Regions from separate parts of the Homo sapiens genome. Here all the other regions are linked to region 3. Evidence: fine-mapped expression QTL. A gene starts in region 3. Each other region holds a variant in brackets. All regions are shown on one strand. Distances are between the middles of the regions.

Region 1 (5,280 bases), 820 kb before region 3:
GTAGGAGTGTGAGTTCCAAAGCCCACTCTCTGCCACTAAACCTCTGGGATCTTGAACAAATATCTTCCCTTTTCTAGGCCTCAGTTAAAACAGGCATCAGAATATGGTCCAAGTCTCAGGAATGTCGTCAAAACATCAGAGATCATTCACACACAAGTGCCTGGCAGAGCAGTGAGGAAGTCCCACCTTCATGACCAAGCCCACCTCCAGCTCAGGTCTGGGATCATAGCTCAGGGGATCTCTACACCTGGTCCCCAACTTCCAGGCTCACTGCTCCCATGAAGTGAGCCCAGGACCAGGGAAATCAGGAGGGCCGGTGGGGCCTAACCTCAGCTGTGTGTTTTGGGGAAGCCTTTCAGCCTCTCTCAGCTTTGGTTCCGTCACTGGGGGGGGCAGTGGGGTGGGAAAGATGCAGTTTTCCCAGAGTTATTGTGAGGTTGGGGTGACACTCAGCCAGTACCTAGCACTCCAGAGGCAGCCTCTAAATGTTAGGGGGACCCCATGTCCCCCACCCTGCACCTCTAAGGCTGCTGTTTGTTGCAGCTCTTACCTTGCCCAGGGCTGAATGGGCTGGAGGGGTGAGGTGGTTCCCCAGCTTCCCCCAGAGCCTCCCCTCCCAAAGCCCAGCTCCAAAACCTTCTCCACCCACTGCAGGCCTATGGTGGCACTCACACTCTCTCTCTCTCTCTCTCTCTACACACACACACACACACACACCCACACACACACACACGCGCGCGCGCGCGCGTTCTTACATTCTTTTTCCGTTGTTTGCGGCTAATTGTTTATTAGGAGATGCAGGCGGCTGTGCCAGTGGGAAGGCTCAGCTTGCTCTGCTATAATTAGGATAATGCACATTAGTCATTTAGTGTAACTCTGAGAGCAGCCCCCTCCCCCGCACTCCCCTCCCCCGCTGCTCCTGCTTAGCTGGCTGGGTTCCCAGGCCAGGGCTGTGCAGGTTTGTTCAGGTTCCCTCCTGGGCCTTCTCGGTTGGCCCTGGCTCTACCTCACTACTAGTCCGTCCAGCAGTCCCTAAGCCCCCCACTGCCTCCCCTGACTCCAGGATAGGGTTTTCTCTATTTTCTCTCTCCAGGCTTATCTCCTATTTCCTTCCTCTCTGTCCCCTCTTTCTCCGCCTCCCCCTATCTCTTTCCTTTGAACCCTAGCTTTCTCTCCCTCTCCCCTGTTCTCAGCCCTTCTCCCTAGCTTCTGCACCCTTGCCTTATTGCGGGGGTCTCTCTCCCTCCCCCAGCCCTCCATGGGTAGGTAGCCCAGCAGAGCAGGTCAAGCCTACACTCCAGGCCCTGGGGGGTTGGTGGCAGTTCTCCTCTCTGGCGTGACTGTAGGAGGTAGTCCAGACCCTCTCCCTGGAGCCTGATCCTCAGGAGGTTGTCCTTGCTGCTGCCTTCCCTGACACTCCCCGCCCCCAAACACAACCCACTGTTTTTGGCTGAGGACTAGGCTGGCAAAGGTAGGCCATTGTCTCCAAAAGGCCCTTCCCACAAGCACACCAGTGTGGCCTCCTTGCCTTGTTCCCCCCTTCCCTCGTGGTCATCCTGAGATCCAAGAAATTGGGCCCCACAGGAGGCTAGGGTGCTGGGGGGTGAAGGTGAGGGCTCTCATCATGCTGGCTGGAGCAGGTAGCCCTCTGTTTCATGTGGCCTGGATTGGGCACCAGGCAGCCGGGTGGTAGGGAGTATCTTTTCCACTAGGAAAGAGAGGCTCTTCAACAGTGTCTTTTTGTCTCTAGCTGCACAGCCGCTGGCCAACTCCAGACCTGCTGACAAATAAACCTCCTGACCCCTATTCCTACATCCCTGAGACCCCCACGCAGCCCTTTCCATCACAAAAGGGACCTCACATCAAAGCCCATTACAGCTAGGCAGACTGAGCTCTAGGGCCAAGGGTTTGCCCTGCAGGTCGCTGCTGGGGTAAGGGTGAGGGTGGGGTCCCTCCAGTGTTTCAGAAATAAAAGAGCTGTTCCCAGGGGTAAGCGATGCTTGATTGGAAGTACAAAGCCTTTCTTGTCTTCATAAGCCTGTTGATGTCTCTGGTCCTGATCCTGAAATCACAGATGCAGACAGACTAACAGACACAGGCTTACAACTTGCAGGGCAGGCTCACAGAGCAGGTACCACAGAGGGCCTGGGGTCACTGTGCACTTGGAAGGGCCAGAGCTTCTGTCCCCTACATCTGATATCTCTCCTCTGCCTGGACTCTCCATGCAACAACTGGGCCTCCAAACTCCAAGCCCCTCTTGCCTTGGGACCCCTCCAGCCCAGGGACACCAGCCTGAGTTGTACATATTGTAGTCCCTGCCCCTAGAGGTCCACATCACCCTATCCTGAACTACTCCTTCTCACCCTCCTTCTCTATCATGTGCCCCGAGGCTCTGTCCCTCAGTGCCATGTGCAGCTTACAGGATCCCATGGGAGCAGAGTCTAGAGGGGAAGGGAGGGACCATGGCCCAGCTGATCTCCCAGGACCAGGGAACCTTTCCTTGGCCTCCTCTTGGGATTGCTTCCCCATAGGTGGCAAGGCTCCAGGGGCCAGAGGAAGGTACCCCTGAGACTAGCAGGGAACTGGGAAACAAGAGCCCTGGTTTTCAGTAAGTCTCTCATACCACCTTGCTGTATGCTTTCAGCAAGTCTTCCCTCCCTGGGTTTCCCCAGGAGCAGGACTAGGAGGCCAGTTCAGGGGCTGTCCTGGTGGCAGCTTCTTGGGGTCTCATGGCCACCTGTCCTTCTAGTACCCTCGTCCTCCTTCAGGCTTTCAGGAAGCAGACCTAGCCCCCAAGTTAGCTGAGCTTGATTCATTCTTTCATTCACCAATCTGTAGTTTAGTACCCCCCTCCCCGATTCCTCTGCCTAGGTCTCTGTGATTTCCTTCCTTCCTTACTCTCAAAGATGAGGAAGTCACACTGAGCAGCAGGCTTGGTCTGGTTTTAGGCAGAGGGAGCAAAAGGAGTGGCCAGTTTAGGATAGATGTCCCAGGATGGGGTACAGCAAGGGTGCCTGCAAGGGGAAGACTGGCACAG[A/ATGTGTGTGTG]TGTGTGTGTGTGTGTGTGTGTGTGTGTGTGTGTGTTAGCACAACCACCTCCCAGGGCCATCCCAGTCATTCCTTCACTCACTCATTCACTCGACAATCCTCTGTTCCACACAGACCATGTGTAAGACTCTGTGCTAGGTGCCAGGGATTAAAAAAAAACAGCAGGGTCTCCACCCTTAGCGGCAGGCAAGTTGAGCCCCAGTCAGAGCACAAGAGGATTCGCATTGGGTTCACATATAGGAGAGAGGGGAGTCGGTCGCTGGGTCTTGGAGGATCTCTGCCTCCTGACTCAGGAGGCCGTGTGGGGGATCCATTTAATGACGATGATAATAACACTCAGAGAACAGCTAACATTTAAAGAGGGCTGCCTGTGTGCCAGGCACCGCTGAAACATTTCACAGGTAATCTTATAACATAGGCATTTTGTTAGCAAAGCAAGTCAGTGAAAAAGGGGCTATTCTCACTCCGTTGTACAGTTTAGGAAACTGAGGTGGGGGATGTGAAGCCACTTGCCCATGATCACACAGCTAAGAAATGACAGAGCCAGCCTGACCCAAACCTTTGTGACCCTTTTTTCTCATCTGTAAGGTGTACGGGAGGGACCCTGATATCCCTTCAGCTAAGAGATGGGGAGTTCCCAGGCAGATGGCAGGAAACCAGAGCTGCTGGGAGTCAGCAGGCAGGAGGTCTCCTGGGAGGGGATTCAGGGCAAAGTGGAGGAGGGGCGCCCCTCCTGCTGGCCCCTCCCCACAGCTGACTTTTATTCCAACATTGGGTTCCAGCCAAGCATGGGGGTGGGGTGGATAACAGTACTGGGAAGCTGCTTCTCCAGGATTTACAACCTGCCAGGGAGTAGGCAAGAGCCATCTGGGGGCTGCTAGCTGCTGGTGGCTTCAGTGGCTCTTCCTCCCACCCACCCACTGAGGGAGTGGCCACAGCATGGAGTCAGTGATTATGTATTCCCCGGCTACATGTCCTTGCTCTGGGGCTCCTGCTGCTCCTAGCGCAGCCCAGGCTGCAGTCACCCAGAGGCACTCAGTGTTGGGAATACGGTGGAGAGAGGAAAGTGGAGCCTCCAGGTTGATGAGGGAGACACTAGCCTGTGCCAGAGGAGAACCCAGGCTGGTCCTAGAGATGGGGTCTGCAGCTTCGTGGTGGGGAAGGTTTGAGCTGCTTTGGAGGAGGGAGGAGCTACAGGGCTGGGGATGGGGTGGACATCTCCCTCAGACCCCAGACCTCAGGGAGGCACTCATCCCTCTGTCTCTGGACTGGACCCCTCTTCTCCCCTCTGGCCCAATGTGGTTTACTGCAGCTCCAGCCTGGGGTGGGGACATGCCTGTGGGGACCAGCTTAGGTGGTATCTTTGTGCAATTTAGAAAGATACAAAAGCAGCCCCTCACTAGGCACCGGGCTTGGCGAGCAGAGCCGGGGCTGGGTTTTAACCTCTGTTTGCTCCTTGAGCTGTGCATCTTTGTCCAAGACACCAACTGTTCAATAGTATTATACATAGAGGCCCTGCCCTGGTGCTTAGGGAAGGCAGTGTTCAGGGCCCACCGGGCCCAAGTCATCACCTCTCCTTCGGCCAGCTGACTGCTACCTAGTCCAGAACTCCCTGCAGACATAACCGCTACCTACTTCTAGGTCACTCATGTGGCATGCAGAGCAGGGACTATCCTCTTCTCCCAAAGAAAGAAGCTGAGGCCCAGAGAAAGGAAAGAAACTGCCCAAGGTTACGCAGCAGATCAGTGACAGAGCTTTCTGGGCCAAATTCTAGGGCCCCTCAACAGCTGGCACTCCTTCCAGCCTCGGTGCCTCTTTGGAGGCCTTTGGGACACTGCTCCATGTGCCTGTCATCTCTGTACTTGTCTTATTTAACTTAACCAACCTTGGCAGAAGACCTGCGTGAGCCAGACAATGCACCAAGTGCAGGAGAAAAACAGGTGAGCACTTCCCTCCTCTCAGAACTAAATAACCAATAAATGTTGAATGAATGAATGAATGAATGAATGAACGAATGAACACTGAGCACCAACTTTGTACCAGAAATTACACCAAGCGAGCAATTTGCTTATTTAATCACAACTCTGTGAAATAGGTTCTAAGCTCTTCATTTCACAGGTATGGAAATTGAGGCTCTGAGAGGTTAAGTAACTTGCCCAAGGACACACAGCTATGTCAGAGCTGAAATTTGACTGAGAGTTTATGTGACTCCAAAGCCAAACGGGCTCTTTCTTATTTTTTTA
Region 2 (5,280 bases), 48 kb before region 3:
TCATTTCTTAATGAGATTATTTGGATTTTCTCTTCCTTTCTTGGTTAATCTTGCTAATGGCCTATCAATTTTATTTATCTTTTCGAAGAACCAGCTTTTTGTTTTATTTATCGTTTGTATTCTTTTGTTTCAATTTCATTTAGTTCTCCTCTGATCTTGGTTATTTCCTTTCTCCTGCTGGGTTTGGGTTTGGTTTGTTCTAGTTTCTCCAGTTCCTTGAGGTGTGACCTTAAATTGTCTGTGCTCTTTCAGACTTTCCTCTTAGCATCACCTTTGCTGTGTCCCAGAGGTTTTGATAAGTTGTGTCATTATTGTCCTTCAATTCAAAGAATTTTTAAATTTCCATCTTGATTTTGTTTTTGACTCAATGCTCATTCAGGAGCAGGTTATTTAATGTCCATGTATTTGCATGGTTTTGAAGGTTCCTTTTGGAGTTGATTTCCAGCTTCATTCCACTGTGGTCTGAGAGAGTGTTTGGTATGATTTCAATTTTCTTAAATTTATTGAGGCTCGTTTTATGGCCTAACATATGTTCTCTTTTGGAGAAAGTTCCATGCACTGTTGAATAGAATGTATATTCTGTGGTTGTCAGATGAAATGTTCTGTATATATCTGTTAAGTCTATTTGTTCCGGGGTATAGTTTAAATCCATTGTTTCTTTGTGGACTTTCTGTCTTGATGACCTGTCTAGTGCTGTCAGTGGAGTATTGAAGTCCCCCACTATTATTGCGTTGCTGTCTATCTCATTTCTTAGGTCTATTAGTAATTGTTTTATAAATTTGGGAGCTCCAGTGTTAGGTGCATATATATTTAGGATTGTGATATTTTCCTGTTGGACAAGGCCTTTTACCATTATATAATGTCTCTCTTTGTCCCTTTTAACTGCTGTTGCTTTAAAGTTTGTTTTGATACAAGAATAGCTACCCCTGCTCGCTTTTGGTGTCCATTTGCATGAAATGTCTTTTTCTACCCCTTTACTTTAAGTGTATGTGAGTCCTTATGTGTTAGGTGAGTCTCCTGAAGGCAGCAGGTAGTTGATTGGTGAATTCTTATCCATTCTGTGGTTCTGCATCTTTTAAGTGGAGCATTTAGGCCATTTACATTCACTGTTAGTATTGAAATGTGAGGTACCTTTGCAATCATTGTGCTTTGTTGCCTGTGGACTTGTTTTTTGTTTTTCTTTTTAACTTGTATTTTTGTTTTATAGGTCCTCTGTGATTTATGCCTTAAAGAGGTTCTGTTTTGATGTGTTGCCAGGATTTGTTTCAAGATGTAGAGCTCCTTTTAGCAATTCTGGTAGTGGTGGCTTGGTAATGGCGAATTCTCTCAGCATTTGTTTGTCTGAAAATGACTGTATCTTTCCTCCATATATGATGTTTAGTTTTGCTGGGTACAAAATTCTTGTCTGATAATTGTTTGTTTCAGGAGGCTGAAGATAGGGCCTCAACCCCTTCTAGCTTGTAGGGTTTCTGCTGAGAAATCTGCTGTTAATCTGATAGGTTTTCCTTTATAGGTTACCTGGTGCTTCTGTCTTGCAGCTCTTAAAATTCTTCCCCTCATCTTAACTTTAGATAACCTGATGACAATGTGCCTAGGTGAAGATCTTTTCACAATAAATTTCCCATGTTTTCTTTGTGTTTCTTGTGTTTGGATGTCTAGTTCTCTAGCAAGGCTGGGGAAATTTTCTTCAATTATTCCCCGAAATACGTTTCCCAAGCTTTTAGAATTCTCTTCTTCCTCAGGAACACCGATTATTCTTAGGTTTGGTCATTTAACATAATCCCAGACTTCTTGGAGGCTTTTTTTGTATTTTCTTATTCTTTTTTCTTTGTCTTTGTTGGATTGGGTTAATACAAAGACCTTGTCTGTGAGCTCTGAATTTCTTTCATCTACTTGGTCAATTCTATTGCTGAGACTTTTTAGAGCATTCTGCAATTCTAAAAGTGTGTCCAAAGTTTCCTGAATTTTTGATTTTTTTTTCTTTAAGCTATCTATTTCCTTGAATATTTCTCCCTTCACTTCTTTTAGCATTTTTTGGATTTCCTTGCACTGGGATTTTCTCTGGTCCCTCCCTTATTAGCTCAATAACTAACCTCCTGA[ATTT/A]TTTTTTTTTTTTTTTGGGTAAATCGGATTTCTTCTTGGTTTGGATCCATTGCTGGTGAACTAGTGTGATTTTTGGGGAGTATTGAAGAGCCTTGTTTCATCATATTACTGGGGTTGGTTTTCTGGTTCTTTCTCATTTTGGTAGCCTCTGTCAGAGGGAAGGTCTAGGGCTGAAGGCTGTTGTTCAGATTCTTTTGTCCCACAGGGTGATCCCTTGATATAGTACTCTCCCCATTTTCCTAAGGATGTGGCTTCCTAAGAGCTGAGCTGTAGTGATTGTTATCTCTCTTCTGGGTCCAGTCACCCAGCAAGTCTACCCGGCTCTGAGCTGGTACTGTGGTTTGTCTGCACAGAATCCTGTGATGTGAACCATCTATGGGTCTCTCACCAGTGCCTGTTCTGGTGGAGGTGGCAGAGGGTGCAACAGACTCCATGAGGGTCCTGAGCTTTGGTGGTTTAATGCTCTATTTTTGTGGTGGTTGGCCTCCTTCCAGGAGGCTGCACTTTCCAGAAAGCATCAGCTATAGTAGGCCCCAAGTAGGCCCCAGTGTCTGTTCTTCCCCGCTTTGTGTCCATTTGTTCTTATCATTTAGTTCCCACTTATAGGTGAAAACATGCCATATTTGGTTTTTTGCTCCTGCATTAGTTTGCTAAGGATAATGGTCTTCAGTTTCATTCATGATCCTGCAAAGGACATGATCTCATTCTTTTTTATGGCAGCATTGTATTCCATGGTGTACATATATCACATTTTCTTTGTCCAGTCTACCATTGATGAGCATTTAGGTTGATTCCATGTCTTTGCTATTGTGAATAGCGCTTCAAGGAACATACGCATCAGTGTCTTTATGGTAGAAAGATTTATATTCCTTTGGGTATATACTCAGTAATGGGATTGCTGTGTCAAATGGTAGTTCTGTTTTTAGCTCTTTGAGGAATTGCCGCACTGCTTTCCACAATGGCTGAACTAATATACACTCTCACCAAAAGTGTATAAGTGTTCCCATTTCTCCATAACCTCGCCAGCATCTGTTATTTTTTGATTTTTTAATAATAGCCATTCTGACTGGTGTGAGATGGTATCATGTTGTTTTTGCTTTTGTTTTTTTGAGATAGATCTCACTCTGTCACCCAGGCTGGAATGTAATGGCATGATCTTGGCTCACTGCAACCTCTGCCTCCTGAGTTCAAGCAATTCTCCTGTCTCAGCCTCCAGAGTAGCTGGGACTACAGGCGTGCACCACCATGCCCAGCTAATTTTTTGTATTTTTGGTAGAGATGGGGTTTCACTATGTTGGCCAGGCTGGTCTCGAACTCCTGACCTCAAGTGATCCACCCACCTCAGCCTCCCAAAGAGCTGGAATTACAGTGTGAGCCACTGCGCCTGGCCCTCATTGTGGTTTTGATTTGCATTTCTCCAGTGACAAATAATATTGAATTTTTTTCATCTGCTTGATGGCCAAATGTGTCTTCTTTTCAAAAGTTTCTGTTCATGTCCTCTGCCCACTTTTTAATGGGGTTGTTTTTTTCTTGTAAATTTGTTTAAGTTCCTTATAGATGCTAGATATTAGACCTTTGTTAGATGGATAGATTGCAAATATTTTCTTCCATTCTCTATGCTGTCTGTTCACTCTGTTGATAGTTTCTCTCGCTGTGCAGAAACTCTTTGGTTTAATTGGATCCCCTTTGTCAATTTTTGCTTTTGTTGTGATTGCCTTTGGCATCTTCATCAGGAAATCTTTGCCAGTTCCCATGTCCAGAATGGTGTTGCCTAGGTTGTATTCCAGGGTTTATATAGTTTTGGTTTTACATTTAAGTCTTTAATCCTTCTTGAGTTGATTTTTGTATATAGTGTAAGGAAAGGGTCCAGTTTCAATCTTCTATATATGGCTAGCCAGTTATCCGAGGACCATTTATTGAATAGGGAGTCCTTTCCCCATTGCTTATTTTTATCAGCTTTGTGAAATATCTGATGGTTGTAGGTGTATGGCATTATTTCTGGAATCTACTCTGTTCCATTGGTCTGTGTGTCTGTTTTTGTACCAGGTCCATGCTGTTTTGGTTACTGTAGCCCTACAATAGTGTTTGAAGTTGGGTAACGTGATGCCTCCAGCTTTGTTCTTTTTGTTTAGGACTGCTTTGGCCATTTGGGCTCTTTTTTAGTTTGATATGAATTTTAAAGTTTTTTTTTCTAGTTCTGTGAAAAATGTCATTGGTAGTTGGATAGGAATAGCATTGAATCTGTAAATTGCTTTGGGCAGTATGGCCATTTTAATCATACTGATTCTTTCAATTCTTGAGCATGGAATGTTTTTACATTTGTTTGTGTCATCTCTGATTTCTTCAAGCAGTGTTTTGTAATTCTCATTGTAGAGCTCTTTCACCTCCCTGGTTAGGTGTATTCCTAGGTATTTTATTTTTTGGTGGCAATTGTGAATGAGATTTCATTCCTGATGTGCCTCTCATCTTGGCTGTTGTTGGTGTATTGAAATGCTAGTGATTTTTGTGCATTGGTTTTGTATCCTGAAACTTTTCTGAAGTTGTTTATCAGCTAAGAGAGCTTTTAGGCCAAGACTATGGGGTTTTCTAGGCATAGAATTATGTCATCTGCAAACAGGGATAGTTTGACTTCCTGTCTTGCTATTGGGATGCCCTTTCTTTCTTTGCCTGATTGCTCTGGCCAGGACTTCCAATACCATCTTGAAGAAGGGTGGTGAGAGAGGGCTTTCTTGTCTTGTGCAAGTTTTCTAGGAGAATGCTTCCAGCTTTTGCCCATTCAGTATGATATTGGCTGTGAGTTGGTCATAGATTGTTTTATGTCTGATTGTGTGGTGGTCAGTTATAGAGTACATGCCACGTAGCAATGAGAAAAGTGTATATTCTGTTGTTTTGGGGTGGAGAGTTCTGTGGAGGTCTATCAGATCCATTTGGTCCAATATTGAGTTCAGGTCCTGAATATTTTTGTTTATTTTCTGCCTTGATGATCTTCTAATACTGTCAGTGGAATGTTGAAGTCTCCCACTATTATTGTGTGGGAGTCTAAGTCTCTTTGTAGGTCTCTAAGAACTTGCTTTATGAATCTGGATGCTCCTATGTTGGTTGCATATATATTTAGGATGGGTAGGTCTTCTAGTTAAATTGAACCCTTTACCATTATGTAATGCCCTTCTTTTTTAT
Region 3 (5,280 bases):
CCTAAAGAACCTATTCCCCAACTCCCTGCATGTTCAGGACTCCAGGAGGATGGATAACCCTGGGAGGTCTGGACACCCACCAAGCCTGGCCTGACCATAGAGCACTCTGCCCTCCCTGCCTCTCTAGCTCTGCTTGAACACTGCAGATCCCTGGCTCACTGGCCCCACAGCTCTTTAAATTTTCTGGTAATGCTTTAAATTTTCTGGGCTGCTCCCCAGCCCATGCAGGAGCAAAAGTTCCACCCGACCTATAGCTTCCAAGTCCACCATTCTGAAGTCCTCAACAGCCTGCAGTTTATTAGAAGTTGCTACAGAGACAGGAAAGTGTTACCGGTGGAGGGTGTCCTGCTCACTGAAACATTCTGTTTGCAGGAGAAAAACAAAAACTTGGTCTGTTCTAGGATCTATGTGTTTCCTTAAAGTCTTAGAATGAGCAACTCCATTTTGGTTTGGTTTGGTCTGTTGGGGCCATGAGCTCAGTCCAAAACACTGGCCTTTCACAATTTTGTTTTTTAAAATTCCCCCTTTTTGTTCAGGTTCTCACTTAGGTGAGAATGTAACCAAAACGTAAGGCCTTAGCGCCGCTCTCAGTTACCATCATTTTGGGTTTCCAGTCTCAGCACACCATCCATAGGTTACAGTGTCCTCATGGTCGCATATTTGTTTCACTTCTCATCATTCCAGTTGAAGAGAGACCATTTGACATTCTAGAGATGGCTGCATGCAAACATCGAAAACCTTTGAGAGAATACAGTGCACCAGGGAGCCTATTATTATGATGACTATTGGGAGGATAATACCAAGAGTTTGGAGGATGCTCCTTGCCCAGGGTTCCCATAAACCAAACCAGTTAAAATTAAATAGATCAAATAATGAACTAAATAAAGAATCTACCAACTTAAGTAAACAATCTCCTCATTAATCCCCTACAACTGAATCTCTTAATCTTCATTTAATGTATTTCTCCATAGACTCTAAGTGCCAGCAGCTGCACAGATACTTCTCTGTTCAGCCAATTCTATCATAACTTTCACAAAAGAATTTAAAGTCTGTTGTGTAACTATGGCCTTTACAGTAGATGTTCTGAGAACATCTATCCTATGGGTTCTAGGTTGTGAAGGGGTTGATTGTTCTCAGTGAACCATAAAAAGCTTTCTTTACCTGGTGAAAATACACTGTAGCATAATCATGGGAAAAGCTTTTATACAACAAGAAAACATGCATTGAAAGTGACATTGAATAAAATCCCTTTGTAAATGTTTAAATGGCCCATCGGGTAGCCAAATGTACCTGAAGCTTTGATTGTCTTCCCAGGAATATGGATTTGAGAAACCAAACATTGGTTATAAACAACTTTAGCAATTTATAAGTCAGCGGTTTCCATGGCAGTTTGATTTTTAAAGGTCAAACTTCCTCGCACTTCAAAGAACGCTGAGGCCAAACAGCACCAAAGGAGAACATCACACTTTAACCCGACACAACCCTGCTTAGAACAGCAGCACAAGAGCCTGCATACATGCAACTCCATCCCACTTTACCATTCAACAGCAAACTCCAGATTCCAAACAATATTGAGGCCAAACACTACTGCAACCGGAAGAGAAAATTCTAAGGAGGGCTTAGTACTAGGCCTAAGAACCTCTACCAAAGGAACCCCCTTGGAGAGGCTGAGGTCCAAAGGATCCTCCAGAGCATCCCCCTTTAGGGTCCAATCTTAGAGCGTCAGACGTCTCTGACCTTAGGTGGTCACCAGTGCCACTTTACATGTTTTCCCTCCAGAGGGGATGGCCTACTGTGAGCTTTCCTTTTGTCTCTGGATGAAGGCCTTGACTTCTAGCATCCTTATAATTTGATAAGGCCATGCTTTCCCATGGTTCCCATTCCACTAGAGTGATAGTCATGAACTTTAATGATATGAAATGGAGGCTAGGTGGGTTTCTTTTAACCTTAGCCAGTAGAGTAGGGGAAGGGAAGAATTTAACATAAGGAAAGAAGGTTTAAGTCACCTGAAACACGTGTGAGTTCGCCCTGGAGAAGCTGCGTCACACATAGGGATCAGGGACCACAACCAGAAAAGACAGAAAAGAGCCCTTCCCGCTTCTGGGCAGGGCAACTATCCCCATTCACTCCTTGGCCTTCAAGGCAGCACTGGAGAGTAGCCCCCGGCCAGAAACCTGCAGTCGCCTCCGTGTCTAGGCGCTACCCACCAAGGATCCCACGTTGGAAAGGAAAAGAGAAAGAGAGAGATTTACCTGTATGGAGCAGAAAGGAAAAGGGAAAGGAGAAAAATAAATCCCAGACTTTGGGCTTACCTCCTGGTTGGCTTGCCAAAATATGTTACCAGTGAAGAGTGTCCAGGTTCTTGGCGTGTTGAACAAAGAACTGGACAAACACACAAACAAAGCAAGGAAAGAATGAAGCAACAAAAGCAGAGATTTATTGAAAACGAAAGTGCACTCCACAGGGTGGGAGCAGGCCCGAGGATAGCGGCTCAAGAGCCCGGTTTCAGAATTTTCTGGGGTTTAAGTACCCTCTAAAGTTTTCCCACTGGTTACTTGGTGTGCACACAATGTAAATGAAATAGGAGCCCGAGATCAGTCTGAATGGTTGCAGAAAGCGATCAATGGGAGGCTGAAGTGAAGTTACAAAGTTATGCCCTATGAAAACATCTGATTGGACGCAGAAAGCGAAGTTACAAAGTTACATTCCTATGCACATGAAGACTTGGCCCTGGAGACCAGTCTGATTGGTTGCGGGAGGGGACCAATCAGAGGTATTTTCAGTTTTTCATCTGCCATGTAGAAAAGGAGGGGCTACAAAGGAAGTTTGTGGAAAGTTGGGATTTTCCTCCAGACCCTTATTCTCCTGCTTCAGAAGGGAGAGAAAGCAGACCGGGATGGGGGTGCGGGGATCTTCCCGGGAGTGGTGGGGTTGTGTTACCAGTGCCCCACCTCCTCCCGAGCCAGCAGACTCCCCAGAAATGAAAAACTAAGGCTGGAAGGTTTAGCGATGGAGCAGGACCAACTTACCAGCTCGCGGTGCTCCCTAGAAGCTGGATTCTTCGCAGGTGCGAGCACACCCCAGATGCCAGCGTGGACCCTTGAGCAACTGGAAGTTAAAAACCCACGAAAACAGCTCTGAGTGATCTCTAGGGAGCTCTCGTTTCTTTTTCACCCATGTGTATTTTTTAAGACAAAAAGAAAAAAGGTAATTTAAAGAAAACAAAGAACAAAGGAACTTGGCGAGGCCCAGGCTACAGTCCGCGGGCTCACTCTCCACAGAGTAAAAAGAACGCGAATCCTTTTCTGTTTTCCGGCCCTCCCCATCCTGGGCTGCGGCTCCACACTTCCCCAGCGTGGCCTGCATTTCTATTGGGCAGCTGGCGCTCCGGAAGTGTCCGCACTCTTTATTATCGACTCTGCGCCTTTGGGCAATTGTCACTATTTTGGTTCATCAAAATTGAAGAAATACCAGGCATTCTTACCATGCCCCTAAAGGGGTGACTCAACCTTTCCAGCTGTACTCGCATTCCCAGAGCAGCACTGCTGCCCCCTTGCTTAAAAGCACGGTTGCCCCCAGGAACCAGGCCAGGGCAGCTGTGGATGGACAGGAGAGGACAAAGGTGCAAGGAGCGGATTGCTCCAGGACAGACAGATTCAAATACCTACCCCTGGCAGTGTAGGGAGCATCTTGGGGCCATTTGGGAGATTCCTTTATTGGGATGCTCCAAAGGCTAGTCTGGCCGGATACAGTCCTCCTGCCACTTTGCTTTCCTTTAGCCCCCTTATTATGATAATTATGGTAATACATGTTTTTCCTGCTAACTTGTCTAAGAATTGGTGTCTCAGTACATAGCTTTTGAAATGCACACAGGCCACGATGACTCATCACAGGGGAATGTGCAAGTCTGAGTTGCTCCTTCTCCGCAAGCTCCACCTACCCCACTCTGGACTGCATTAACTGCCTACTGCCTATTCTAAAATCTTAAGGTACCTAGGAAGAGTACCTATTCACATTAAATAACGTATATATTGAAAGCACATAGCTGCGCTTTTCTTCTTCTCATCTGATCCAGACGCCAGCTCTATGGATACAGTCTCACCGAAGTTAAAAAACTATTCTTCAGTCATTGGCTTAGAAAATGCTAGTGCCGGCTGGGAGCAGTGGCTCATGCCCATAATTCCAGGACTTTGGGAGGCCGAGGTGGGTGGATCACCTGAAGTCAAGAGTTCGAGACCAGCCCAGCCAACGTAGTGAAACCCCCGTCTCCACTAAAAATACAAAAAAAATTAGCCGGGCGTGGTGGCAGACCCCTGTAATCCCAGCTACTAGGGAGGCAGAGGCAGGAGAATCAGTTGAACCTGGGAAGCGGAGGTTGCAGTGTGCTGAGATCATGCCACTGCACTGCAGCCTGGGCAACAAGAGCAAAACTCTGTCTCGGGGAAAAAAAAGGAAAGAAGAAAGAAAGAAAGAAAGAGAGAGAGAGAGAAAGGAAGGAAGGAAGGAAGGAAGGAAGGAAGGAAGGAAGGAAGGGAAAGAAAGAAAGAAAGAAAGAAAGAAAGAGGAAGGAAGGAAGGAAAGGAAGGAAGGAAGGAAGGAAGGAAGGAAGGGAGAGAAGAGAGAAAGGAAGGGAGGGAGGGAGGGAAAGAAAAAAAGAAAGAAGAGAGAGAGAGAGAAAGAAAAAGAAAGAAAGAAAGAGAAAGAAACAAAGAAAAAAAGCTAGCGCAGGCCGGGTGCGGTGGCTCACGTCTATAATCCCAGCACTTTGGGAGGCCGAAGTGGGTGGATTGCCTGAGCTCAGGAGTTGGAGACCAGCCAGGGCAATATGGTGAGAGGGCATAGTCGTGCGCGCCTTGGTAGTCCCAACTACTGTGGTGGACTGGGGAGGGTGTGGGGGCGCTGAGGCATGAGAATCGCTTGGATGGAGGCAGAGGTTGCAGTGAGCCAAGATCACACGGCTGCACTCCATCCTGAAAGACAGAGCAAGGGATTCTATCTCAAAAAAAGAAAAAGAAAAAAAAGAAAAGAAAAGAAAAAGAAAATGCTAGTGCAGGGATTTTCCCAGAGCACCAGGATGGCTTCCAAGGCAGAAACAAAAGACATTAAGAAGTTGTTCCCATGGGAATGTGTGTGGCAGGCATGACATATCAGATCAACTTGGAATAGAAAATGCATATCCCAAAAGGCCCCTCAAAAGTGAGCAGAGTAAAAACATTCACAGAACTTTTAAATTATGTTTTTATTAACTATTGAGTAGAAACAATATTTATAGAATACATA
Region 4 (5,280 bases), 35 kb after region 3:
AAATAGCTTTTTAAAAATAGCTATGCCTTATTTTATATCTTGATTGAATTGCTCATAGTTGTTGTACTCAGTGCCTTAAAGTATCTCGTATTGAACATAGACTCCATGTCACAATAAATAATAAATTAAAATTAAATTTTTGGCACTCAAAAATTGGCTTGATAAAATAGGATTATATAAATCCCATTAAAATAGTTAATATGGTTCAATGTAAGTTAAAATAGGCCCTTGAAGGATTGAAAGTTGTTACATAAAACCTCATTTATATAACATAAAAGGGATAAAGGAGATAAGTATTCCCTGCTGCTTGTCCGTTTAACAGCCCAGTGTTGCCTGTTCTTAAACCTGGAAAATAATAAGCAGCAGGCACCTCACGGTGGAGGACTACAACATTATTGCTGTGGTCTTGTCGACTAGGGCCTCATAGCCAGTATCTAGTATGATTAACATTATTAACTCTATCCAATCAATAACTGCTAAATACTCTGTTCTTACAGACTTGGCTAATATGTTCAATATGTTCAATTCCGTGCCTATTTCAACAGACTCCACTGTAGTTTGCCTCCATTGCTGAAGAGACACAATATACCTCTTGCAGGCTACACCTCAGTACCTTCACAATTTTGCCATCATGCACACATCTTACAGACAAGATCTTTTTTAATACTTAATTTTTCTAGAGCAGATTCACAGCAAAATTGAGCGGAAAGTACAAAGATTTTCCATATACCCACTGCCCGCACTCATGCATAGCCTCCCCCATTAGCAACATCTCCCATTAGTGTGGTACATTTGTTACAATTGATTAATCTAAATTAATACATCATAATCACTCAAAATCCATTGCGACTTTTACATTAGCGTTCATTCTTCTTGTACATTTTATGGGTTCAGACAAATGTATAATGACATATATCTACTATATAGTATCAAACACAGGATTTTCATGGCCTTAAGAATCCTCTGTGGTTCAACTATTCATTCCTCCCACTCCCTTAATCCTTGGAAACCACCGATCATTTTACTGTCTCCATAATCTTGCCTTTTACAGAATGTCATATAGTTGGAATCATACAGTATATAGCCTTTTCAGATGGCCTTCTTTTTAAAGAGACAGGGACAGACAAGATCTTAAGTGCATGCACCTTCCTCTGGGAGCACAGATATGATATTACATTAATAACCTCCTCCAAGGAGATGTCACTTAATCTACTCATATGGACATAAGAGTCCAACATCTTTTCATCCTTTTTGGGTTTTCATGGCAAAATATTCTTCACTTACAAATTTTACTTAATCTCATTGAGCTGTAACTCACAAATGAACCCACTTTAAATGTGGCAGCCTCAAACAAAAAGGCTCTAAAATCTATCCAAATTAATACCAACAGACAGACCCATTGGTGCCTGCATTGATTCCTTTACTGAAGAGACTTTAACAAGCTCTACTCATGCCTCCTAAAGTCTAGACCACCTGTGATGGCTACGAATTGCCTGAGGGCTCTCAGCCTCATGCTATATGCCATTAAAACCACAAATGACTAGCTCCATACTGGGCTCTCCTGGACATAGAGGCTTTCACAGATTCTGAGTCTGTGACCCTCCATACCTGGCTACCTGTTATGCTTTCAGTCATGGAAACAGCACCCTGCAAGCTCAGCCTCTCAGAGGGCCCAGGTTTGTCTCTAACCTGTCTCAAGGAGGCTACCAAGTCCTGGGCTCTCTAGCATATTCACACGCAGAAGGGAGTGACGTCCCCAGTCCTTGGTCCCTTGCCAGATGCCATAGTGCTGGAGGAGGTCACCTCTCCTCCAGACCCCTTGGTTACCTGGAAAGCTCCTTTGGATTGACTGAGTGAACAGCAATAGAAGTTCACGGACTATATGAATGGCACTGCCAACCACCATACATGATGGAGCTAGGTGGAATATTACCGAATGCTGGATGCCCTGGCCAACAAATGGCCCCATCTCCATATTCCTTTTGAACAATTGAGCCATTGCCTAATGAATTGTCCCTTTCAGATTAAGGAACACTAAGAACCTCTTTCCTCTTAGATACCCAAAATCACGTGTCTATGTATATTAAGGCCACCATATGAGGCCTTACAATTACCAAGGTAATAACCAAGGCACACATTTCACATTGCAAAATACACACTGAATGGGCTCCCGAAACAAACAGGCATTCAATAAAACTTTC[A/G]TGACCCTAATAGGTCCCAAATAGCCAGTTTAACAGAGAGACATAAGAGTCTCCCCAAACAACTTCTTTTAAAGTTCCAGTCCAACAAATGGACCTCTCAATGGGTCTTTATCTTGCCCCAGGCCTTAACCTATTTTTATAGATTTTCAATATCAAACCCCCCCCATCAGGAGGCCACAGCAGGTGTGTATATTCTCTGGGGTCCAATTAATAGTGATTGTCCAATGGGCTAGGCAGCTGCTTATCTGATATGGGACCCGTTTGAGCCTAAACTTCAACCATGAAGCAAGCAAGCAAGCAAGCAAAAACCAAAACTCTGTCAAATGCAGCTGCACACCATTCTGTTTTCTGTTTATCTTTTTTGTTTTGTTTGTTTGTTTTTGCTTTTTGTTTTGGTCTGAGACAAGGTCTCACTCTGTTACCCAGGCTGGAGTGCAGTGGCGTGATCACGATTCACTCCCCACTCTACTTCCTGGGTTCAGACAATCCTCTCACCTCAGCCTCCTGAGAAGCTGCGACCACAGGCACACACTACCACGCCCAGCTAATTTTTTATGTTTTTTGTAGAGACAGGGTTTTACCATGTTGCCCAGGCTGGTCTTGAATGCCTGAGCTCAAGCAATGCACCTGCTTTGGCCTCTCAAAGTGCTGGGATTACAGGCATGAGCTGCCATGCTCAGCCTGCTGATCTTACTGCTGGTATGGGTGCTTTTGTTGTTTTATCATCTGGAGGCACCAACCCTCCATACAAGCCATTGTTTTAATCAATCATGGCAAATGCTAAGACCCACATCAACCTGAGTCTGTATTTACTTAAAAGAAATACTCAAGACCCATATCCTAGATGACATTTTCCTGGATAGGCACTCACTGCTGGAGATTATGCTGCCTCAGATGACATCGATCCAGCTTACCGTCAGAGATGAATTTACCCCTGCACCAGACATGGCGTCACCCTAAACACAAAAACCTTCACCCCAGTGACACCCATGGACTGCCTCTTCTCAGGCACAAACTGCACACCGAACATTTGGCCTTTTTTCCTTTGATATCAGGGATTCTATTGTGTTTCTGAGTGTGCTGTCTGCTTAGCCTATCATCCTGGCATACTCCTTGCTCTCTGCCAAAACATACACCCCGCACTCCTATGCCTGAAGGAAAATTTAATAGTAGTTACCACTACCTACGTCATTCTAAGAATTAATGGAGGGCCAAGCACAGTGACTCATGCCTATAATTCCAGCACTTTGGGAGGCTGAGGCAGGACTGCTTAATCCCAGGAGTTCAAACCAGCCTGGGCAACATGGGGAGACCCCATCTCTACAAAACATATAAAAGTTAGCTGGGCATGGTGGTGTACACCTGTAGTCCCAGCTACTCAAGAGTCTGAGGCAGGAGAATCTCTTGATGTCGGGAGGTCAAGGCTGTAATGAGCTATGACCACACCACTGCACTCCAGCCTCGGTGACAAGGGCAAGACCCTGTGTCTAAAAAGATAACAAAAATTAATGGATAGTATTGCCTTTCTCTGAAGGCTGTTGCCTCCTGAGTCAATCCCTCAACCCACTGGGAAGAGGACCACTAACTCCCCAGTGCCTACCCCTACTACCCCCTCAAGCTTTCCCCCGTGACTTCCTGCCCTGTGTCTCTGACCATGACCACTCCTCCTTGGTTATACACACACGCTAGTCTACACATGCATTATTAATGTATTAGTTCCTATCCCCCAACAACCTGACTGCAGGACCTGTTTTATATAAAATATATATATATAAAATATATATATATTATATATATAAATATATATATAATATATATATATATGTATTTCAAACTTTTAACCCACTTTAAAACTCCACCAAGATAATAGTAAAAACCTCCAAAAATTTCAGATCTACTTTCTTGACTAATGACATGCAAATGAAGAACTTAGTTATGGACCAGCCTACAAGGGCTCTTTATACTTCCACATTGTTCTTCTATCTTACTCTTACAATAAAATATTTTCTAGGCTATTTAGGGCAACTGTACCCCATCCTTTAAATAAGTCCACTATTACCACCCCAGGTTTCTTACGATGATGCCAAATAGGCCCAGGGGCAATGGGTCTTACTGTGTTTTCCTAGGTTCTGTACTTGTCTATTTGGCATCCATTAATCACAGGGCCAAACTAATGGCCAACATTCTTTACATCCCCGCTGTGACCCAGAGCTCATACTCTAAGCTACTCACACATCGAGCCAATATTTTCCCTACCCTACATAAACCCAGGGCCATGTAACAGACAACTGGGGACCGTCCCTAGGCCCCAAAGCCCATCAGAATTATTCAAACTATTGAGTCCTAAGCTGTTCCCCCTGCCCAGCTGGACCTTTCCCACAGAAACCCTAATAATAAAGGTTCCGAATTAGATTTTCCCCTCACTTCTGCTCCTCTTTCCTTAACCAACTGGATGCTTTACCACATGACCCTGCATGACAGAGCAAGTCCCCTTCTCTTGGAACTATAAGTAATAAAGTCTTTTTTCAATGGCGCTAGTCCATCTGTGTTGACACTCAGTCACCTCCATAAATCAAAACTTCAAGAGTACATTTTCATATAATATTTTATCAGGCATCTGAAGGTTTCACCAAAGTTTATATTTTCCTACTGCAAAACTATGTTCCATGTAGATCTGGCCCATCTTGAGGCTATTGTTCCTGCGTTCATCCTCCCATGGTCACATTTCTTGGCCAACAGAACCATAGAAATTGGTCTGCCATGTGTTAACGTTTAGTCCAAATCATTTTTCCACTTTAGCTCTGCTTCAAATGGGGCTGGCCTGGTGATACTGGAGACAATAAATGCGCCTGTAAGTTCCAGATAACAGGCTCTTGTCATTTTCCCAATCTTTCCTCATTGCAATGTTCCACAGCTGTAGGTGTGCCAAGGCCTCTGGGTCCCAGTGTAGCACCTTGAATGCACAGTTCACACAGTGGTGGCTTCAGGGTGCCAGCCAGGAGGAGTTCTGGTGCACTCACTGTTTGATGATGGTGGTCTTCCCCATGCCCAGGTCACCCATCACCAGCAGCTGATACAG
Region 5 (5,280 bases), 55 kb before region 3:
ACCTTTTCATTTCAGTAAATCTTCGTATTCTCATGTTGCAGCTTCTCCATTTTTCTTTAACATGTTTACAGAGAGTCTGTGCAAACCTGTACCAAATCCAGAACCATGCATCTATAACGTGCTAAAAGATTGTCAACCTAGAATCCTATAACAACCACAAAAAAGGCCTACCTAAATGGAGGCAAAGTAATGACTTCAGACAAAAAAAAAAAAAAAGGAAATCTGAAAATCTGAGGGAATTTGTCACCAGCCGATCTTTCTTATGAAAAAATATTAAAGGAAGTTCTTTAGCTGGAAGGAAAATGATACCTGAATGAAACTCAGATCTACAAAAAAGAATGAAGAGCACAGAAGATAGTAAATATGCAGATAAATATAAAAAATCTCTTTTTTACTGTTAAAATTATTCTTTTTTTACAATATAACAAAATGTATTTTCATTGGATATTAATTATGAACCCACAATGCATGTAAACTAAATACAATACTTCAAATCATTCTGCACAAAGAAATTACAGATCACATTTATTTAATAACAAAATGTCTAATTGTTTAATAAAATGTTTTTAGGAACTTACAATATAATTTTCAAAAACAAAGAATAAAAATATTAAATATATCACTTTATGGCAGAGGACAACATAAATTTATTTCTGCAACACAGCAGGCAAACTTTTGTGCTAGAAACAGTGGAGAAAAAATTTAAAGCAAAAAGTCAGGAAATGGATGTTCACAAATTTCTGGTTAACTGAGGCTCAATAGTTATTGTAAGAAACGGGCGTTTGAACATCAGATTTTAAAATAAAATATTTTAAATATTTTTATTTTATAATATTTTAAAGATTTTATTTATAAGATTTTAAAATTTTAAAATATTTTTATTTTATAAAAATAAAAACTTCCTCAAACACCAGAGTTTTTCACCTCAGCAAATGTCTTTTCCTTTGATAATTCATAATCCTGCTGTTCATTTGTCACATATATGAATATCTGGTAACTTCATAAACAACTACCAATGGCACACTTCAAATGCTGAGTCTGTTGAATTTTCTTATATCTTTTTCCCCAATGAACCTAGAGCCTATAACAGAGAAGATACTGAAACATGCTAAGATAATAATTGGTCTTAGAGAGACTTCACAGCAAGTATTTAATGAAAGCCACTACATTTCCAGCTCTAAAAAGAGCCAGACAGACACAATCCCTGCTTCCAGAGTTCACCGTTCAGACAGAATACAGCAGGGCAAGCACTGATTCTGAATCATTATGAGCTTTGATTTCATCTTTCAAGATTTACATAGATACTGATTTCTTCTGGAAGGGCACATAAAATCTTCCCTTACACACATCATTCTTTGGATTCTCATAAGGGGTATTTTGAAGTCTGTATGTTGACAAGGCCAGTAGATACTTAGTTTTCTCTAATTGCCTTCTACTACTTAAGACTATGTCAAGTATTTTGTTTTCCCTTTCAGTTCTCCCCAACCTCTACCTTCTGCAGTGTTGTCTATCCAGTTGGCTTTTCTGTAACACTTTGCTACACTTTTCTGTTCCCCTTCACTGTTTTCCTCCGTTGCTTTCCTCCTTAACAGAAGCCTGGTCATCTAGGTTTCCCCATCTTTCCTTTCCTGGCTTCTTATTCACATGAGTGACTAATCTTAGCACTTCCTTAAAAGTTGGATCTTCAATAAATATAACTTGTCAGCACTTTCAATCTGCATCTCCTTGAGCTTTTTTTTTTTTTTGATCATCAGATCTTCTGTGCAATAATATTCTCTTCCTGAATGCTATTTAGAAATATTATCCTCAAAACACCAATGGTTTCTTGAAGATACTTGTTTTAAAAGTTGTATCAAAAGAGATTGATAAAGGAATCTATAACTCAGCAAAGGATGCTTCTACTGTATTGTGAATTCCCACCATTACAAATATTGGATTCTGCAAGTCCAACATTAAAACCTGGTATGAGACATCAATTTATACACATAAGAGTTACATTATTATTTTAATTTTTTTGTGGATACTAAACTGAAATTTATATAATACATGAGGTTTTAATCTTAGAAAAAGTAAATGATAAAAATTTAATATAGTTAATTGTTCACTGATATGTCTATTGACTTCATCATAACCTATATATTTAATTAAAAATCAAACTATGAGTCTGCAAATCAGATGCTATCAAGCAAATTGCCATCCAGGATCCGTAATTCTTTGTATATTTTTAAGTCAGATGAATATATAAGATTCAGTAAATTTTAATGTTCCAAATTGTTCTCAAAAAAAAAATTATCAGAACCTTGCAGTTAACACAGTTGGCTAATTCATTTCCCCCCAATGAACTACCTATTTGTGTTGTGAGGTAGCAAAGACTATGATCTTCTGTGACAGTAGTAGCCTTAATTCTTATGCATTCCCTCTTCATATGAAGAGTATGAACAACAAAAAGGGACAGATGAGTCACCTTTCATTATTCATTGACTCTTAGTGTTTTCATAGTATGTTAAATGCCTGATTTCAATTTTACAACAACAAAAAATACCAATATTTATTCTGAAAGGCAATCGTATGTTCCAAGTAGCAGATATTAACAACTTCCAACATGATCTCTAGGAATAATCCGCAGTTCTGAACCTTGTTTTAGAAAAACATTTCCAGCAGTCTGTGCAAGATTTATTCCTATTCCATCATTGGTAATAACTGCACTTGTTGCAGCAGGAGCTTTAAATTCTTCGGCTGCAAACTTTAAGACTGCTGTGAAAGGTGTACTTTCAGGAAAGTACAAAGTACACTGAGTACTTTGTATGGCAGCTGCGTGTCCGATGTCAGCATGATCTTAAAGGAAACCTTCGACATGGTGGTACCAGGATGAATCTAGAACACACGCCAACTCTGCGGGGTAGCACGACTTCCTCCACTGTGCTGAAAATTATTCTTAAAATAATTAAGTTTTTAAAGGAATAAAACTATGTATTGTGGTGCTTATAATAGAAATATTTTGTTTTTAGGAATAGAGGAAATGGGTGTGTATTGTTATAAAGCTCTTACATAATTCACAAAGTCATATGCTATGATTAAACTGTGGTAAGTTGAA[G/T]GTGCATATTGTAAGCCCTAGAGCTACCACAGAAGAAATGGGAACAAAAACATATAGATAATAAACCAACAGAGGACTTTTCCTTATGACTCCTATTTTCTTCCTGTTTTTACAAAAATATTATTTTTCCTACCTGTTTTTGCTTTATAGACATGCAGTGGACTTTTTCCCCATAAGTTATTGGGGTACAGGTGGTATTTGGTTACATGAGTAAGTTCGTTAGCGGTGATTTGTGAGATTTTGGTGCACGTATCATCCAGGCAGTATACACTGCAACATATTTGTAGTCTTTTAATCCCTTGTCCCCTTCCCACGCTTTCCCCAGAGTCCCCAAAGTCCACTGCATCATTCTTATGCCTTTGAGTCCTCATAGCTTAGCTCCCACGTATCAGTGAGAATATACAATGTTTGGTTTTCCACTCCTGAGTTACTTCACTTAGAATAATAGTCTCCAATCTCATCCAGGTCACTGCAAATGCTGTTAATTCATTCCTTTTATGGCTGTGTAGTATATATGTATGTATGTGTGTGTATATATATATATATATATATATATATATATATATATATATATATATATATGATGGAATACTACCGTGGTGTATATATACATATATCTCACAGTTCCTTTATCCACTCATTGATTGATGGGCATTTGGGTTGGTATCATGATTTTCCAATTGCGAATTGTGCTGCTACAAACATGCGTGTGCAAGTATCTTTTTCAAATAATGACTTCTTCTCTGGATAGATACCCAGCAGTGAGATTACTGGATCCAATGGTAGTTCTAGTTTTAGTTCTTTAGGGAATCTCCACACTGTTTTCCATAGTGGCTATACTAGTTTACATTCTCACCAGCAGTGGAGAAGTGTTCCCTGTTCACTGCATCCATGCCAACATCTACTGTTTTTTGACTTTTTTGTTATGGCCATTCTTGCAGGAGTAAGGTGGTATCGCATTGTGGTTTTGATTTGCATTCCCTGATAATTATTGATGTTGAGTATTTTTTCATATGTTCATTCACCATTTGTATATCTTTCCTTGTGAATTGTCTATTCATGTCCTTAGCCCACTTTTTGATGGGACTGTTTTTTTTCTTACTGATTTGTTTATGTTCATTGTAGATTCTGAATATTAGTCTTTTGTCAGATTTATAGACTGTGAAGATTTTTTCCCACTCTGTGGGTTGTCTGTTTACTCTGCTGACTGTTCCTTCTGCTGTGCAAAAGCTCTTTAGTTTAATTAGGTCCCAGCTATTTATCTTTGTTTTTGTTACATTTGCTTTTGAGTCCTTGGTCATGAAATCTTTGGCTAAGCCAATGTCTAGAAGGGTTGTTCCAATGTTAACTTCTAGAATTTTTATACTTTCAGGTCTTAGGTTTAAGTTCTTAATCCATCTTGAATTGATTTTTGTATAAGGTGAGAGCTGAGGATCCAGTTTCATTCTCCTGCATTGGACTAGCAAATTATCCCAGCACCATTTGTTGAAAAGGGTGTCCTTTCCCCACTTTATGTTTTTGTTGGCTTTGTCAAAGATCACTTGGCTGTAAGTATTTGGATTTATTTCTGGGTTCTCTATTCTGTTCCATTGGTCTATGTGACTACTTTTATACTAGTACCATGCTGTTTTGGTGACTATAGCCTTACAGTATAGTTTGAAATCAGGTAGTGTGATGCCTCCAGATTTGTTCTTTTTACTTAGTCTTACTTTGGCTATGCAGGTTCTTTTTTTTGGTTCCATATGAATTTTAGAATTGTTTTGTTCTAATTCTGTGAATAATGATGGTGGTATTTTGATGGAAATTGCATTGAATTTGTAGATTGCTTTTGTCAGTATGGTCATTTTTACAATATTGATTCTACCCATCCATGAGCATGGGATGTGTTTCCTTTTGTTTGTGTTGTCTATGATTTCTTTCAGCAGTATTTTATAGTTTTCTTTATGGAGGTCTTTTGACTCCTTGGTTAGGTATATTCCTAAGTATTTTGTTTGTTTATTTATTATTTATTTATTTATTTGTTTGTTTTTGCAACTATTGTAAAAAGGGGTTGAATTCTTGATTTGATTCTCTGCTTGGTCACTGTTGGTATATAGAAGTGCTACTAATTTGTGCACATTAATCTTGTATCCAGAAACTTTGCTGAATTCTTTTATCAGTTCTAGGAGCTTTCCAGAAGAGTCCTT
Region 6 (5,280 bases), 92 kb before region 3:
GCTTATGCCTATAATCTCAGCACTTTGGGAGGCCAAGGCAGATGGATCCCTTGAGTATGGGAGGTTGAGACCAGCCTGGGCAACATGGTGAAACCTCATCTCTAAAAAAAAATTACAAAAAGTATCAGGCATGGTTGTGTATGCCTGTGATCGCAGCTACTCAGGAAGCTGAGGTGGGATGGCTATTGCACAATGGCAATCCAGCCTGGGCGACAGAGTGAGACCCTGTCTCAAAAAAAAAAAAATCACCTCTCATTTGGGAAGGGGAAGAATGGGAGGCACAGAATAGTCCCTGGTCCCTAGAAATTTTGAAATGCTGTTGGGCAGACACTCTGAGGCACTGTTACCCAGGGGTGGGGACTATTCCCTGTGGTTCTGATTCTAGTCAGTGGTTGCCCATGGTGTTTTCCTCCATTTCACTCTAGCCTTACTGAGGTATGATTGACAAATAAAATTGTATATATTCACAGTGTACAACATGATGTTTTGATACATTTATACATTGTGGAATGATTAAACTCAGCTAATTAATGTATCTGTCACCTCACATAGGTATGTTTTGTGATAAGAACAATTGAGTTCTACTCTCTTGGGAATTTTTAAATATACAATACATTGTTATTCCTTGTAGTTGCCATGCTGTACAATAGATCTCCAGAACTTATTCATTTTGTCTAACTGAAACTTTTTACCATTTGACCAACATTTCCCCATGTTCCGACCTCTGCCCACCATCCAGCCCCTGGCATTCTTTCTTTGCTTCTATGAATTCGACTTTTTTAGATTCCACATATAAGTGGAATCATGTAGTAGTTGTCCTTCTGTGGCTGGCTTATTTCACTTAGCATAATGTCCTCCAGGTTCATCCACCTTGTTGCAGATGACAGAATTTTCTTCTTTTCTAAGTCTGAATAGTATTCCCGTGTGTGTGTGTGTGTGTGTGTGTGTGTGTGTCTTACTTTCTTTAATCACACATGCATCAATGGACAGTTTTGGTTAATTCCATATCTTGGCAATTATTAATAATACTACAACAAACATGAGATTGTAGATACTTCATTGATCTACTGATTTCATATCTTTCAGACATATACCCAGAAATAGGATTGCTGCATCATATGATAGCTATGTTTATTTTTAATTTTTTTTAGAAATTAGATTTCACTCTGTTGCCCAGGCTAGAGTGCAGTGGTGGCATCCTAGATCACTGCAGCCTCAACCTCGTGAGCCCAAGTGATCCTCCCGCCTCAGCCTACAGAGCAGCTGGGAACACAGGCTCATGCCACCATGCCCAGGTAATTTTTAAAAATGTTTTGTAGAGATAAGGTCTTGTTGTGTTGCCCAGGCTGGTCTCAGATTCCTGGCTTCAAGTGGTCTCCCTGCCTTAGCTTCCGAAAGTGCTGGGATTACAGGTGTGAATCACTTAGCCTGGCATATTTTTAATTTTTTGAGGAACTGCCATATTGTTTTCTCTAATGGCTGCACTAATTTAAGTTCCCACCAACAGTGTGCAGATACTCCCTTTTCTCCACATCCTTGCCAACACTTATCTTTTGTCTTTTTAGTAATAGCTGCATGAGTATGAGATGAGATGATACCTCTTTGTACTTTTAATTAATATTTCCTTCATTATTAGTAATATTGAACACTTTTTCATATACCTATTGGCCATTGAAATGTCTTCTTTTGAGAAATGTCTACTCAGATACTTTGCTCATTTTTAAATTAAATTATTTGTTTCCTTGCTATTGAATTGTTTGAGTTCTTTTTATATTTTAGATACTAACCCCTTATTAGATGTATGGTTTGCAAATATTTTCTCTCCTTCTGTAGGTTGTCTCCATTCCTTTGATAATTTCCTTTGCTGTGCAAAAGCTTTTTGTTTTATGTCATTCATTTGTCTTTTTTTGCTTTTGTTGCCTGTACTTTTGGGGTCATATTCCAAACATTCATTGCCAAGACCAACATCAATAAATCACCCTTTGGGTTTTCTGCCAGTGGTTTTATAGTTTCAGCTTTTACATGTAAGTCCTTAATCAATTTCGGGTTTATTTTTATGTGGTATGAGATAAGGACCCAATTTCATTCTTCTGCATTGGATATCCAGTTTTCCCAACACTATTTATTGGAAAGAGTATCCTTTCACCATGTATGTTCAAGGTAACTTTCTCAAGGTTGCTTGGCCTATGAACGTATATATTTATCTCTGGGATCTCTATTCTGTTTCATTGGTCTATATGACTCTCTTTATGCCAGTACGATGCTGTTTTGATTACTATAGCTTTGTGC[T/C]ACATTTTGAAATCAGGTAGTGTAAAGTCTCCTGCTTTGTTCTTCTTACTCAAGATTGCTTAGGCTATTTGGGATCTTTTGTGGTTCCATAGAAATTTTAAGACTGTTTTTCTATTTCTGTGGAAAATGTCCTTGGAATTTTGATAGAAATTGTAGTGAACCTGTAGTTCACTTTGGGTAGAATAAACATTTCAACAATATTAATTCTTCCAATCCATGAACATGGGATATCATTTCATTTATTAGTGTCGTCTTCAATTTCTTTCATCAATGTTTTATAATTTTTAATGTGCAGATCTTTCACTCCCTTTGTTCAACTTATTGCTAAGTATTTTTTTTGTAGCTATTGTAAATGGGATTGTTTTCTTGATTTCTTTTCTTTCCTTTTTTTTTTTGTGTTTTTTTTTTTTGTTTTGTTTTTTTGAGACAGAGTCTCATTTTGTTACCCAAGCTGGAGTGCAGTGGCTTGATCTTGACTCACTGCAACTTCCACCTCTTGGGTTCAAGTGATTCTCCCACCTCAACCTCCCGAGTAGGTGGGATTACAGGTGTCCACCACCATGCCCAGCAAATTTTTGTATTTTTAGTACAGACAGCATTTTACCATGTTGGCTAGGCTGGTCTCAAACTCCTGACCTCAAGTGATCCACCCTCCACAGCCTCCCAAAGTGCTGGGATTATAGGTGTGAGCCACCACGCCTGGCTGATTTCTATTTTGCATAGTTGTTATCGGACAGAAACACTGCTGATTTTTGCATTTCTAGTTTTGTACCTTGTAACTTTACCAAATGTGTTAATTAGTTCTAACAGTTCCTGTGGAGTTTTTAGGGTTTTCTTGTAGGGAGACCCCCTGAAACTATTGCTACAGAATAAAAGATGAAATGCTCCTGATTATTATAAATACAAAATTGCATGCAGGATTGTGTAAAGACAATGCAAGGTTGGGCTGCCTGAATGAGCCAACAGCACATGATGTGCTTCCTCCTGCAGAGAGCCTATAAACGGATGTGCAGTCAGGGAGGTTTCACATCACCAATATTCTTATCCCAGAAAAGCAGATGTTCACAGCTCTGGGAATGGAATGCGACCCTTGTGGAGAGCCTATAAATGGACGCATGAGGGGCGGCCATTCATATGTATAAAATAGGGTTTTAAATGCCCTTATCTTGCCATGGCTCTTCTAGGTCTCTTTAGGGTTAAGGCATACTCCCTTCTGAGAATTTGTGGTCTCACCGGTTGTCTAGTTTCACATCCTGTTTCCATCAATTGTTTGCAACCAGCTTTTGCTGCAACTGTTACTGCTGATTAATATCTTGCTAAACATAGGTTATGGATAGACTGTGTTTCTGTTTTAAGGCTCTGTTAAAAATCACTGACACACACACTGTATTGTAAATTCTTATCTCTGTATTCTGCACTTCTGCATACAGATGTTATGTTAAAGAATTACTTCATCCCCATGTGACCATCTCACCTCATAATCAAAGACCCTAAATCCCTCACTAACCTACCCCCACCCTCACTAAACTTAATAATAAATGCTGCTATATCCAGTGCATTCGTGGCATCACAAGACCAGAAGGCGGTGACCCCCCTGGACCCAGCTTTCACTATCTCGCATGTGTCTTTTATTTCTTGACCTGCCGATCCACCTGGGAACAAAGAAAGAGCCCCGTTGGATTGCAGGCTGCTGGTCAGATCCCACAATATTTTCCGTATATAATATCATGACATCTGCAAACACAGATAATTTTATTTTGTCCTTTCCAATTTGGGTGCCTTTTATTTCTTTTTCTTGCCTAATTGCTCTGGCTAAGAATTCAGTATCTCTTGAATAGAACCCATGGTTCCTGATTTCACTCTCAAGAGGGTGTCATTATCTTTTTCCACTTTTTTTTTTTTTTTTTTTTGAGATGGAGTCTCACTCTGTTGCCCTTCTTCCACTTTTAAAGTGGAAAGTTTCCCTTTTCTATTATTTTCTTCAACCACATTTAAAGCAGGAACTGGGGACTGTACCTTCCTTTAGAACTAACCAGCTTTCTCAACCTACTGCTTGCCCAAAGAATGTTGGAGTCCAAGGGTTGTGTTTAGTCTGAAAGCATCACAGTTTTTGCTTTCTGGATTTTAAAAATCTAGGTATGGCTCCTTGGCAATTTAACTTTCTCAAAAACTTCTTGTTGTTTTTCTAAATCTATACGGTCCCAGTTAACTCTGTGTGCTAATACAATTCAGTATTTTTGAGATGTGCTTCTCTCTTTAGATTTAATTATATTACCTTGAATTAGCAGGCTTTCATCAGAAAGCAATGCACTCAAGCTCTTTTCTCTGAGCAATTTTGTCTGAAAGGATTTATTGGCTGACATCTTAGTTGATTCAGAGGTTTCCACCATAGGTTTAATAGCTACTTATTAACTGCCTCTTTGCCAAAGACTGAGTTTGAATTTCTGTCTTTGTTACCCAAAGACATTCTCAGATTTTTTATTAGTTGAAGAAGAGAAATATTTGCAACTTCTTATTCTAAAAGTCCAAAAATGTGTAGACCATTTTCTTCCCTTCCTGCTTGCAAAGAGTTTAGTGCTTTTCCAAGCACATTTTTCCTCCCACCTTTTGTATTACCCTACCTAGTAGCGATCAAACTATATTACTAGCATCTGTTTCCTTACTTCTTCACTCAAATCCACAGGCTCATTTAATACATTATCTTCATTCTAAGTTATTAAAGGTGACTGTTTTGTCCAGTCTTTCACTGCTACAAAACAGGGGTTGACATTTTCCCAGCCTCCAATAATATTTTCTTCATTGCCCATCACTCAGCCCTGGAACCAAAGCCACAATTTAAATTATTTTGTTATGCAGCATCCCACTCTAAGCACCAATTTCTGTACAAATCAGAACTAGCCAGATTTTGCTGTGGTAACAAATTATCCCCAAAGTTTCCATGACTGTTTAAAAATAACAAATGTTAATTTCTTTCTTAAACTATATGTCTGT

What was found. PIP is the estimated chance that this variant, and not a neighbour inherited with it, causes the effect.
Region 1: its variant is fine-mapped to the expression of SLFN12 in follicular helper T cells (Schmiedel 2018, PIP 0.95).
Region 2: its variant is fine-mapped to the expression of SLFN12 in whole blood (INTERVAL, PIP above 0.99).
Region 4: its variant is fine-mapped to the expression of SLFN12 in aorta (GTEx, PIP 0.95).
Region 5: its variant is fine-mapped to the expression of SLFN12 in whole blood (INTERVAL, PIP above 0.99).
Region 6: its variant is fine-mapped to the expression of SLFN12 in whole blood (INTERVAL, PIP 0.99).

What each region holds. Positions count from the first base shown.
Region 1 is chr17:34,612,480-34,617,759 of GRCh38, forward strand. The region is part of intron 1 of TMEM132E (transmembrane protein 132E); the gene reads left to right. Among named protein-coding and RNA genes, the nearest start is that of TMEM132E, 36 kb to the left of the region's middle. RefSeq lists enhancers at 236-814, 3,475-4,075. The variant A/ATGTGTGTGTG (reference allele first, on the strand shown) is at 3,038.
Region 2 is chr17:35,382,129-35,387,408 of GRCh38, forward strand. No RefSeq gene overlaps it. Among named protein-coding and RNA genes, the nearest start is that of SLFN11, 11 kb to the left of the region's middle. The variant ATTT/A (reference allele first, on the strand shown) is at 2,101.
Region 3 is chr17:35,429,876-35,435,155 of GRCh38, forward strand. SLFN12 (schlafen family member 12) reads right to left here and starts at 2,625. Exons shown (of 4, transcript NM_018042.5): 1 at 2,313-2,625. SLFN13 (schlafen family member 13) reads right to left here. Exons shown (of 6, transcript NM_144682.6): 6 at 5,221-5,280. RefSeq lists enhancers at 2,535-3,260, 2,629-3,828, 2,757-2,976, 3,797-4,036, 3,987-4,712.
Region 4 is chr17:35,465,328-35,470,607 of GRCh38, forward strand. It overlaps SLFN12L (schlafen family member 12 like), which reads right to left. Exons shown (of 5, transcript NM_001363830.2): 5 at 1-5,280. Among named protein-coding and RNA genes, the nearest start is that of SLFN13, 19 kb to the left of the region's middle. The variant A/G (reference allele first, on the strand shown) is at 2,202.
Region 5 is chr17:35,374,823-35,380,102 of GRCh38, forward strand. It overlaps LOC105371933 (a long non-coding RNA gene), which reads left to right. Exons shown (of 2, transcript NR_171638.1): 2 at 1-33. It also overlaps the pseudogene UFM1P2. Among named protein-coding and RNA genes, the nearest start is that of SLFN11, 3.8 kb to the left of the region's middle. The variant G/T (reference allele first, on the strand shown) is at 3,095.
Region 6 is chr17:35,338,254-35,343,533 of GRCh38, forward strand. No RefSeq gene overlaps it. Among named protein-coding and RNA genes, the nearest start is that of SLFN11, 33 kb to the right of the region's middle. The variant T/C (reference allele first, on the strand shown) is at 2,290.